3 linked regions of the Homo sapiens genome follow. The protein of the gene in region 3 interacts with the protein of the main gene of each other region in a biochemical or structural test. Each region holds a gene or a part of one and is shown on either strand. Other genes may lie near its edges. The genes, in order: FYN, FCN3 and FN1.

The links.
Region 1: the proteins of FN1 (region 3) and FYN form a complex in vitro, tested with the Homo sapiens proteins (one study listed by IntAct).
Region 2: the proteins of FN1 (region 3) and FCN3 form a complex in vitro, tested with the Homo sapiens proteins (one study listed by IntAct).

What each region holds. Positions count from the first base shown.
Region 1 is NC_000006.12:111,866,839-111,870,488, forward strand, and holds part of FYN (tyrosine-protein kinase Fyn), read right to left. Parts: intron 1-3,650. UniProt on the Homo sapiens protein: Non-receptor tyrosine-protein kinase that plays a role in many biological processes including regulation of cell growth and survival, cell adhesion, integrin-mediated signaling, cytoskeletal remodeling, cell motility, immune response and axon guidance.
Region 2 is NC_000001.11:27,372,720-27,376,469, forward strand, and holds the start of FCN3 (ficolin-3 isoform 1 precursor), read right to left. Parts: upstream 2,106-3,750; 5' UTR 2,100-2,105; coding exon 2,009-2,099; intron 1,733-2,008; coding exon 1,637-1,732; intron 1,291-1,636; coding exon 1,246-1,290; intron 802-1,245; coding exon 769-801; intron 545-768; coding exon 417-544; intron 1-416. UniProt on the Homo sapiens protein: May function in innate immunity through activation of the lectin complement pathway. Calcium-dependent and GlcNAc-binding lectin. Has affinity with GalNAc, GlcNAc, D-fucose, as mono/oligosaccharide and lipopolysaccharides from S.typhimurium and S.minnesota.
Region 3 is NC_000002.12:215,429,419-215,433,068, forward strand, and holds part of FN1 (fibronectin isoform 1 precursor), read right to left. Parts: intron 2,547-3,650; coding exon 2,415-2,546; intron 1,435-2,414; coding exon 1,297-1,434; intron 1-1,296. UniProt on the Homo sapiens protein: Fibronectins bind cell surfaces and various compounds including collagen, fibrin, heparin, DNA, and actin. Fibronectins are involved in cell adhesion, cell motility, opsonization, wound healing, and maintenance of cell shape.

The sequences.
Region 1 (3,650 bases), on a different chromosome or scaffold from region 3:
TGTATGTTCTACAGGCTTTGATATGTGTTTTTACCCTGGCTGGGGAGCAACAGATTTCTAGACTTCTCCCCCTCTAGTTCTCCTGATGCTGCTTTGGGCAGGTTCAGATATCTTCAGTGCTAAATCCAACTGCATTTTTTGTTCTTTATGTTGCTCAACTCTGAAGCTGGTCTAGTACTCCGCAGGCTCCTCTCCCATTCTGGGCCTGACTCCTCCTCTGTTCCTGGGCTTGCTCTCTGCCCTTTCTGCTCTTTCTACTCCACACATTCTCCCTGGGTGACCTCACCCACATCCATGGCTTCAATTTTTGTAATTTGTTTGCTAACGAATTTATATTCAAGACCTAGTCCTGGCTGGGAGCAGTGGCTCATGCCTATTATCTCAGCACTTTGGGAAGCTGAGGTAGGTAGATCCCCTGCAATCAGAAGTTCGAGACCAGCCTGGCCAACGTGGCGAAACCCCAATAATTAGCCGGGTGTGGCGTTGGGTGCCTGTAATCCCAGCTACTCGGGAGGCTGAGGCAGGAGAATCGCTTGAACCTGGGAGGTGGAGGTTGCAGTGAGCTGAGATCACGCCATTGCACTCTAGCCTGGGCAACAAGAGCGAAACTCCGTCTCGGGAAAAAAAAAAAAAAAAAAAAAAAAGACCTAGTCCTCTTCCCTCACTCCAGACCTCTCTATTTACCTGCCTATGAGCTACTACACCTGGAAGTCTAAAGTGTTTAAGATAAAGTCATCGCTTAGATACCTGCCCCCTGCTTTCCTTATTGGACTGCTTGTCTCTACCTAATTTCCCAGAGAAATTCTTTTCTACCTACCCCTACACCCTGTCTACTGCTCTCTAATTCTTTTTTGCTCCATCTGCACCTCCTTTCCTTCCATTTAGACCCTCATCTACTACTCATTTAAGTTTCCATAACTACCTTCCCTGCATTAGTTCTGCCTGCCCTCGGTCAAAGGCCCATACTGTGGCCAGATCTTTATAAAAATACAATCACATCAAAGCCACATCTCCACTTACAACTCTTAAATGGCACTCAGGATAAAGTACGTACAAGAATCTTTCTCAGTTTCTCCTTCAGCTCTGTCATTTCCCTTTGTCCATCTCTGTACCACTCCAAACAGCCCTGAACTAACTGCAGTTCCCCAAAAGGTCTGTGCATTCGCCCTCTGGGCTGTTCTTTCTGGGACAGGGAGCTTCCCACAACACTCACCTAGCCATCTCTACTCATCTTGCCTTCAGACCCCTCCTCTTCCAGCCTTCTCTGCTTGGCTATCCCACTTGCCCACCTCTTTTCCAGGTTCATGCTCCATTCTGCACACTCTCTGCCATCCTACATGGACCCCTAAAATCCCAGCATTTCTAACATTGGTCAGAGACTCCTTTATAGCTCTGCAAAACTAGCAAGTAAGTTCCTTCGGGACAGGATCACATCTCTTTTGCCTTGAACCATCGAATTAATTGTCTGGCAAATAGAATACGCAATGAATGAATGCTGTTAAATGAGTAAGTATGTAGACAATTCATAAACTTATACAGACCTAATTGTGTACCACAGAAAGACCCAGCTTTAAATAATCACACAGAGTAAAATTATTTCCAGTATCGACATGCCTTGCTTTACCATTGTTTAATTTAATTTTGTATTTCCCAGGTAAGTAGTAGATAAGTGTCTGAATGGAAGGAGGGTAGGGATGAATATTGTATTTCTATTTGGCTATAAAATTATATTTCTCATCAACCAAAAGTCTTAGTTTCTAAAGCATTTCAGTCACCCTCCCTTATGGCACATAACGTATTTTAATATCATCATTATATGTAGTATTTTGAATATTACCTAGTGGCTAAGGGCAAAGGCTTTGGAACCAAACTAATTGGACCTGAATCCTGACTCTACCACTTAGTAGCTGTATGATCTTGAATTAGTTACTTAACAAGCTACTAAAGTTTGCTTCAATTTCCCATCTGTAAAACGGAGATTATAAGTGAAACCACTTCATATTATTATTGTTAAGATCGGAGCTTAAACAGTGCTTGGCATATAGTAAATGCTCAACAAATGTTAACAATTATTAATTATTTTTATCTCTTCTAGTAGACCGTGAACTTCTGAAAAGCAAGGACAGCAGAAGTATTCATTTCCAGGACCTCATCTCCCCAGTGCCTTGCACAAAGTAACATACTAGGCTAATGTCTGCAGAACAGATGAATATAATGAAGTATTCATGGCAAAAAAAAGTGCATTAACAATTATGATGGCTGGTATGAATGGAATTGCTCCAACAATTTGGAAGCCTGTGGAGAACAGGGACTACCCAGAACACTAGAACCCTGCTCATGGAGATTTGGAAGCTCACTTAACCTCCGTGGAATATGCAAGACTCACAGACAAAGAGGGCAGCTGAGTGACAGAGGAGACCCATGTGGGCCTGAAGAGCTGGCTGGCTGAGCCTCCTGCCCTTCCGTTAAGAAGCTGCAAGGCCTTGGGGCAAGGAGTTTCACCTCTCAGGCTAATTAATTTCCTCTTCCAATTAAGAGGGAGTGGGACTGTGATTTCTGTTTTTCTTTTTGAGATAGGGTCTCACTCTGGAGCCCAGGCTAGAGTACAGTGGTATGACCTCAGCTCACTGCAGTCTCTACCTCCCAGGCTCAAGTGATCCTCCCACCTCAGCCTCTTGAGTAGCTGGGACCACAGATGCATGCTACCATGCCTGGATAGTTTTTAAAAGATTTTTCGTGGAGACGAGGTCTCACTATGTTGCCCAGGCTGATAACAAACTCTTGGGCTAAAGTGATCCACCCACCTCAGCCTCCCAAAGTGCTGGGATTACAGGCGTGAGCTGCAACATCCAGAAGGAGTGTGATTTCTAAGGACTCTCCTAGCAACTTTGGGAGTCTACAGAATGACCAGATGAAAAATGAAGCCAAGAAAGGTGCTTTTGGAGTAAAAGAACCACATCAAAGTCAACACAGGAAGCATCAGATGATTGTATCACATGGGATTATTGAGTAGGAATTGGCAACATTTGAAACATAAAATTTGAAACATGACAAAAAGTAAGATTTTTGAAACATGCTTAGGATGAAAAGATCTAAACTTATAAAATCAAAAGAAAAGCAATGACGGGTGTCCGCTCTAGGTTTCTATTTAATTCCCATTAGCCTATAAGTTTCTTGAGGGCAGTGAATGTGCCTTGATAAGTGGCAGTGTTTGACAAAGCTGTTCAATAAAAATACATTTATTCTGTATCTTTTTTCTGAGCACATGGCTAAACTACATTTCCCAGGCTCCCTTGCAATTAAATGTGGCCATATAACTAGCCCTCAAGTAAAGAATGTGAGAGGAAGTGATGGTGGCACTTCCAGGCTAAGGTATTTTAAAAGTGGGTGTGCCCCGTCTACTCTCTGTTGCCCCTTCTGTAAACTGAAACAGGTTACGATGATAAGCTATGGGATGGTGGAGCTACAAGATAGGGGTGTGGGACCCAGAGTCACTGCATGGAGGAAAGCCACCTACCGACCAGAAACATGAATTTTTGACTATTAAATGAGCAAGAATAAACGTCTATTGCTTTTGAGCCATTATATATTTGCAGGCCTATTTGTTACACCTGCTAACATTAGCCTAATTGATACAGGTGTTGAGCACA
Region 2 (3,750 bases), on a different chromosome or scaffold from region 3:
GCTGCCTCCCTGAGTTTATCTTTACTTCTAGCTGGAATGCCCCTCCCTACCCTATTTTTTTTTTTTTTTTTTTTTGAGACAGAGTTTCACTCTTTTCACCCAGGCTGGAGTGCAATGGCAAGAACTCGGCTCACTGCAACCTCCACCTCCTGGGTTCAGGCAATTCTCTTGCCTCAGCCTCCCAAGTAGCTGGGATTACAGGCGTGAGCTACTGCACTCAACTTAAGGTCTTTTCAAAAGGCACCTCCTCTGTGAAGCCCTCATACTTCTTCAGGTCCCATTGGGGGCTCACTAAACATTTGTCAGTGAATTCCTCTAGGAAATGCCTTGCTCTGGTGGGTTCTGGCTCCCCTAGGGGCCAAGGGGGAGAAGTGACCAGTGGGCCTGGCCTGTTAGCCCATTTCTCAGACACTCACCAGCCAGCCGCCCCCCTCGGTGTCCATGTCACAAAAGACTGGGAGGGCCCTGCCCTCAGGTAGGCACAGATGGTACCAGCCGCTCAAGGTGGCGCCCTGGCTCAACAGCTCCCGGCAGTTTCTGGGGCCTGGGAAAGGGGAGATGGACTGGGGTGGTGCCCAGGTTATTCCCTGACCCCCACCCCCAGGCACTGGAACAAGTGTGGGACCCTAGGGACCCTCTTGGCTCCTTCAGGTCCCTGAAGAAGGGTTCTGAGGAGGCTGTGGGGAGGATCTTGGCCACACTTGGGGGTCTGCCAACACCCAACACCATGTGATCCCAAGTTCCTGGCTCCTGCAAGGGCTGCCTCACCTTCCTGGCACCGGAGCAGGTTCACTGGATCTCCTGCCCCAGAGAAGGGATGAGTGTTGGCTCTGATGTCTCAGCACCCCAGCGCTGAGCCACCAGTGGAGCCGGTACCCAGGCCCTTTTCCGAATCCTTCCCACTCCTCCCAGCCTTCCATACCCTGTAGGAGGGCCATCATAGGGTACCCAGGCCCTTCTCCTAATCCTCTCCACTCCTCCCAGCCTTCCAAACCCTGTAGGAGGGCCTTCATAGGGTACCCAGGCCCTTCTCCTAATCCTCCCCACTCCTCCCAGCCCTCCATCCCCAATAGGAGGGCCATCATAGGGTAGCCAGGCCCTTCTCCTAATCCTTCCCACTCCTCCCAGCCATCCATTCCCCTGTGAGAGAGCCATCATAGGCACAGCAGCCAAGCAGAGATCCCACCCTAGAGTCCAGGGACAGAGGCAAAGAAAGCGGGGAGGCCTCCAGCCCCACTTACTCACCTGGCTCACCCTTGGGGCCCATCTTGCCTGGTGGTCCAGGTGGCCCTGAAATCACAAAGGCAGAGATTTCCTGAGTCCCACCCCATGCCCAGGACCAAAAAGAAACAAGAGACTTGGAGCCAGAGGTTCAAATCCCAGTTTCACCCTTCACTCACTTTGTGATTGCGGGCAAATATCTTATCCTCTCTGAACCTCCCTTTCCTCCTCAGCAGAATGGGGATGAAACCACTTACCTGGCAGAGTTGATCTTAGGATGCCGGGTGCCCAGCCTGGAGCTGGCACAGAGTAGGTTCCTTGCTCCTTTGTCGTGGCCCCTCAGCACAGACAAAAATTGCTACTTTCCTGCCTTCCCCATTCCCAAGATCCCAGCCCGCTCCCCAGCCCCTCTCACCTTGAGGACCTGGGGCTCCCTTCTCCCCAGGACTTCCTGGAGCTCCGGGACAACTGGGCAGGAGGACAACTTTGCTGGCTTCCAGTTCCCTGGGTCCTACAGGGAGACACAGGCAGGGTGGGCACAGGGTAGACTGTCTCTTCCAGACCCCTCTTCAGTTCTCTTCCTGTCTCCCAGATTCCCACTGTCAGGATGCTTGTCTCCTGAGCTGGCAAGGTTTCGTGTGCTTTGCATCCATTTGCATATATTTACATGCAGAGCCCAGATTATGAAACTCCCACCCTGCTCCTTGAGGTTGATGAGCCTTGGTGGGGGGACACCCAGCGAGGGAATGAGGAGTGGGTTGGTGAGGAGGGCACCCTAGGTGCCCACCTGGGCAGCTGGGGTGTTCCTGGGTCTTCAGGCAGGCAGGCCCCCCAAGCAGGAGAAGCCACAGGGAGGGCAGGATCCACAGTAGATCCATCTTGCTGGGCCCACCAGGGGAAGGATGCCAGATTATAAGGGGGCCAGGCTGGTGGGAGGACATGAAACAAGACTTCCTCCCATTGTCCCCCAGGGACACCCCACCCAGACTGGAGCCAGCAGGGGGTGGGAGTATTTCCTCCTTCAGCCCCAGAGAGAAAGGGCATTATCCCTGCCCTATCCAACCAGGATGGAGTCCAACATCTTTTTGTTTTTTGTTTTTTGTTTTTTTGTTTTTTTGAGACGGAGTTTCACTCTTGTTGCCCAGGCTGGAATGCAATGGCGTGCTCTCAGCTCAATGCAACCAATGCAACCTCTGCCTCCCGGGTTCAAGTGATTCTCCTGCCTCAGCCTCCCAAGTAGCTGGGATTATGGGTGCACGCCACCAAGCCCAGCTAATTTTTTGTATTTTTTTTTTTAGTATAGAAGGGGTTTCACCATGTTGGCCAGGCTGGTCTCGAAATCCTGACCTTAGGTGATCCACCCACCTCGGCCTCCCAAAGTGCTAGGATTACAGGTGTGAGCCACCGCACACTGAAAGAGTCCAACTTCTGATCCTGGCTTCCAGGGCTCCCCAGCCATCTCTCCAGACCTCTACATTCACAGTCGTCTCTACCTGTGAAGCCCCATCTGTCCATGAAGGTCTAGCTCTACAGCCATCTCCACTGGGAATCCTTCCCTGATCCTTGTCAATGCTATGAATAGTGACAACTGCTACCATTTCCTGGGCATCTACTGCATTCCAGCGTCATACTGACGTCACCTCCGATCCTCACATGGACTTGCTATTAATCCTTATTATTGCATTATGGGCCTGGTACAAAATGGGTGCTCAGTAAGAAAGAGTTAAATGAATAAGGAAAGAGAAACTGAGGCCCAGTGATGGGACGTGACTTCTGTTCTCTTGGCCACTTATATGCTGAGAGCAACAGAGTTTTACCCAAGCCCCATGCCCCCGCCAGGGAAAAGCACCATTAAGAAAGTGATTCTGGCTGGCTGCGGTGGCTCATGCCTGTAATCCCGGGATTTTGGGAGTCCGAGGCAGGCAGATCACCTGAGGTCAGGGGTTCGAGACCAGCCTGGCTAACACGGTGAAACCCTGTCTCTACTAAAAATACAAAAATTAGCCGGGCTTGGTGGCATGCACCTGTAATCCCAGCTACTCAGGAGGCTGAGGCAAGAGAATCACTTGAAACCCGAAGGCAGAGGTTGCAATGAGCCGAGATCGCACCACTGCACTCCAGCCTGGGCGAAAGAGCAAAAACTCCGTCTCAAAAAAAAAGAAAGTGACTCCATGCTCAACCTTGAGTCCCGTGAGGCTTAGGAAACAGCTGCTAATGTACGCCAATTGAGCGGGAAGCCCATGTAGGAAGGCCTGGAGGCCGGGAAGCCAGGGAGGACGCAGCAGCCAGGGTCCAGATGTGAAGGATCAGGCCTGAGCTGGAGAGGGACCTCAGGTGATAAGGGAGGAGAGGCAGGGCTCATTCATTCACTCATTCAGGAAACCCTCCCTCAAGGCCTCCTCTGCACCTCCCTGGTGCTTATGGAGAGGGCTGAGGTGCAAGTGGTATCAGGGGAAGTGGAGGCAGTGTTTGCCTGACAGGATGTGTCCGCGAGAGGGATATCCTGAGACCGCAATTCCAGTTCTAGGA
Region 3 (3,650 bases):
TATAGAGGATCTGATGTCTTTGTGAATTGGATATTGTTGCAACTCCTGGGTTAGAGAAAAAAAATTAATAGTTGATGTAGGTTCAAACAAATACACACCCACATCCATCTACCACAAGAATAGAAGTTTGCATGAAGGTATAATTACTGATTAGAGCTTTTTCCCAAATCCCCAGCGAAAAGTATTATCATCCCCTGAACCTCCATAGCACTACTTTCAGTATTTCTGTTGAAATCTTTAATACTGTGTTTTGCAGATGATAAATATGTATAAGACTTTCTCATCTCCCTGACCCCCTAAGTACTCTTTGAAGGCTGGGCTAATGTTCATTTCATATCTGCACCCCTATAATACCTTGAACAAAGTAAGTCCTTATAAAATTTTCTGGAATAAATGACTTCTCTTTGAGAAACTTTTCCCAACTTGCTATTTAAAGAGTTCTAAATAACAGATAAGGTTTGAATCAGACATCTAATTTGTCTTAAGCTAAAATATTGCCACAAAGATCTTGGAAGTCTGATGATCACAGTAACATTTTAAATGCAAAATATCTAATAAACCAGCAAGTTTCTGGGAAAGCTTTGGTCAAAATGGTTACCACTTTTCATGAGAGACCTATTTTTGTTAGCAAAGAATTTGAATTTGGATGATGGCTATGTTAAAGGTAGTTAAATGGGTTCAGCTAGATAAATAAAACAGGTTCAAATTATTTGGATTTGATTTTAAACTTATTTACAACACCAGTAGTTAATGGCTGTTTTACTTCAACAAACTCTCTAGCTGTTATTAGTTTACAATATCAAAAAAGGAGCCTTCAAACCCAAAGGCAACAATTAAGACCCCAAGACAATCTTAGAAGGAGCAGTAAAGACACCAGAGGCCAGCTTCTTTACAGCACTAATCAAATGCGTTAGGTCAGAGACACTATCCCTAACTCCAGAGTAGATAAATCATTTTAATTTATGGGATAAATTCTTTTTAATTTTATCAATTTAGCCTGTGAATGTGCCCTATTTAAATTTCAAACATAGAAGGAAACCTAAACCTTTTGTTCAACTCTATGTCAGTGGCAGTGAGCTGAGATTGAACCTTATCAAAGTGATATGTTTTTCTATTTATGTAGTCTTCTCTGAAGATGCGGAATAAGTTGGTTATGAAAGTTTTCTTGACTTCCAGAAGTTACCAAAGCATGCTGATATACTGGATGTGTTCTGAGTAACATAGTATTACCCTTCTCTCTAGGAATCCAGAAAACAATACCTGGCTTAATCTTTAACATAAAGATGTAAAACATACTTCTAGAAGTGCAAGTGATGCGTCCGCTGCCTTCTCCCAGGCAAGTACAATCTACCATCATCCAGCCTTGGTAGGGCTTCTCCCACGTTTCTCCGACCACATAGGAAGTCCCAGCAGCATGATCAAAACACTTCTCAGCTGTAGGGAAATTTGGAAGAAAAACAGGAAAAAAAGGTTATTTTGAATTGTGCAAGCTCCCTGTAATTTAAAGTGTAGTGTGTAAGCAAAAATTCAGCCACATTTTTTTTAAGTGGCACTCTGTTCAGAAAGAATGACACACCCAGCATCTAAGCACACAGTAAGTAGCCAAGGCAAAAGAAAGCTCAAGCTGAGTTGGCAGGCAGAAATTCCATTCTCCTAATAAGTACATGGACTACATATTTTCAGCGAGCCCCAAACTTCCCAGCAGCATTTCCAGTAGCAAGGATCTATGTATGTATCTAGTCTGTGGGAGACTACATATGCAAAATTCCAATCTTAATTATAAATGACCAATTATGAATTTTGAGTGGCCTAAATACAATGACAAAGAAAGCTATTTTTAAATATTGGAAAGCAAAACAATACAAAACAAGACAAAAACCTCTAAATTAGAAGACAAGTAAACAGAGTAAAATTTATAGCCAGAAACTTTCAGGCTTGTACTTACAAAATTCAACTGAGGATTGAGATCCAAAGAAGCTCAACAACTTTTAATTTGAAAAGAAATGAGCAGAGTGTGACAAGCACACACTATTTCATGTTTCGGTCCAGGACATTCCATATAGAAATGTGTCCAAAGTGTCATTTTTTTTTCTTTTAAATAAATTATATCTTGACGAAGGAGGAATCTGAGATCAGCTATTAGGTAAAAGAAATGACTCCATTCTAAATCTTTCAATTCTACCTTATGCTTTTGAAGCAAAGTTAAGACTTCTATGTGTAGTCAGTACTTTTTGATCTAACTCCTGTAAGAAGACTATGGATTATATAATAATTCATTATTTCAAACAAAATTCCCATTTCTTTATTGGTTTTCACTGGAATTCAGGTCTATGACCTATGTAGATGTGATTCTGGTCCAACCCCACATTAGAACTAAGCATCCCAGCTCTTGCTCAGCCCTAAGACTCACACACCTATGGGCTTGCAGGTCCATTCTCCTTTTCCATTACCAAGACACACACACTCTAACATGTAACCACCAGTCTCATGTGGTCTCCTCCAGGTGTCACCAATCTTGTAGGACTGACCCCCTTCATGGCAGCGGTCTGTTGAAGATACAACGAAAATGTTAGGAGAGGGCAGAACAGATTTTTTTTTTTGGTCTCATATTCCACCCATGGTAGGTACTTAGGTTGGCTAAAGTAGAGACACAGACAACAGCTTTCCCATCAGAGACAGGGGAAACGTTAACAGGTCTGGTCACTTGGAGTCAATTCAGTTAAGTGTCTTGCTTAGAACACAATGGAAAACCACAGAGAAATCTGGATGGCAAGGAAGAGGTCATGAATCCTGCTTTCCCAGAGAGATCACAGGAAATTGGGTCCTAAGCAGAAAAGAAAGGCTGGGAGGCTTGGTCTTCACTCATACACAGCAGGCTAAGACTGAGACTAATTCAGTGAAAAGGCCACATCAGGCACAGCACTCCAGCTTTTGGGAGCATGGAGAGCCTGTATTTTACCCTAGGATAGAAATGTCATTTTGGTGGAAAGCAAACAGACATATGCATATAAAGTGTGGAAATCCTGGTAGTTTTCTAAGTTGTTAAGCCCAATGGCACATTCAAATGCTGAACTAGATTGTAAACACTATGGACCCTTGCCTCTTGCGATTTGCCTGTGAACTTGGATAAACCCTAACATGAAATATGGGGAAAGTTGATTGGGCCTATTCACACGGGACTTGTTCTTTTGAATAGAAGTCTTTAAGACGACTTATATTTAAAGAATGGATTAAAAAACTTAAATACTATCTTAATAGAATCTATTGGTAACCCAGTGAATCATACTGGAAAGAGTGCCTTAGCTAAACTAGAGTTGAGAATCAGCCCGGTTCCCAAAGTTCCTTAGCAAACTCTATTGGGTTAATAATTTTGTATTATCCCTAGGAATAGTGACATCTGCTTCCTGGGTATAACCTACTGGTCACCAAGAAACCAGACTGTTTCTGTGAGGTGCAAGAGGTCTCTGCATTGCAAACATGAAGACCAGACAACACATGGCTGGTTCACTCTTCATGAACACCTTCCCAGTCACTGCAGAAAAGTCTCATGATTTGTCTAGCTTGAAGATATCCAGGTGATTTAAAATGGGCAACTCCCCTAAGCATGTCTTACTGAAATGGAACCCAAGAGGTCTCTTGGTTCTACTATG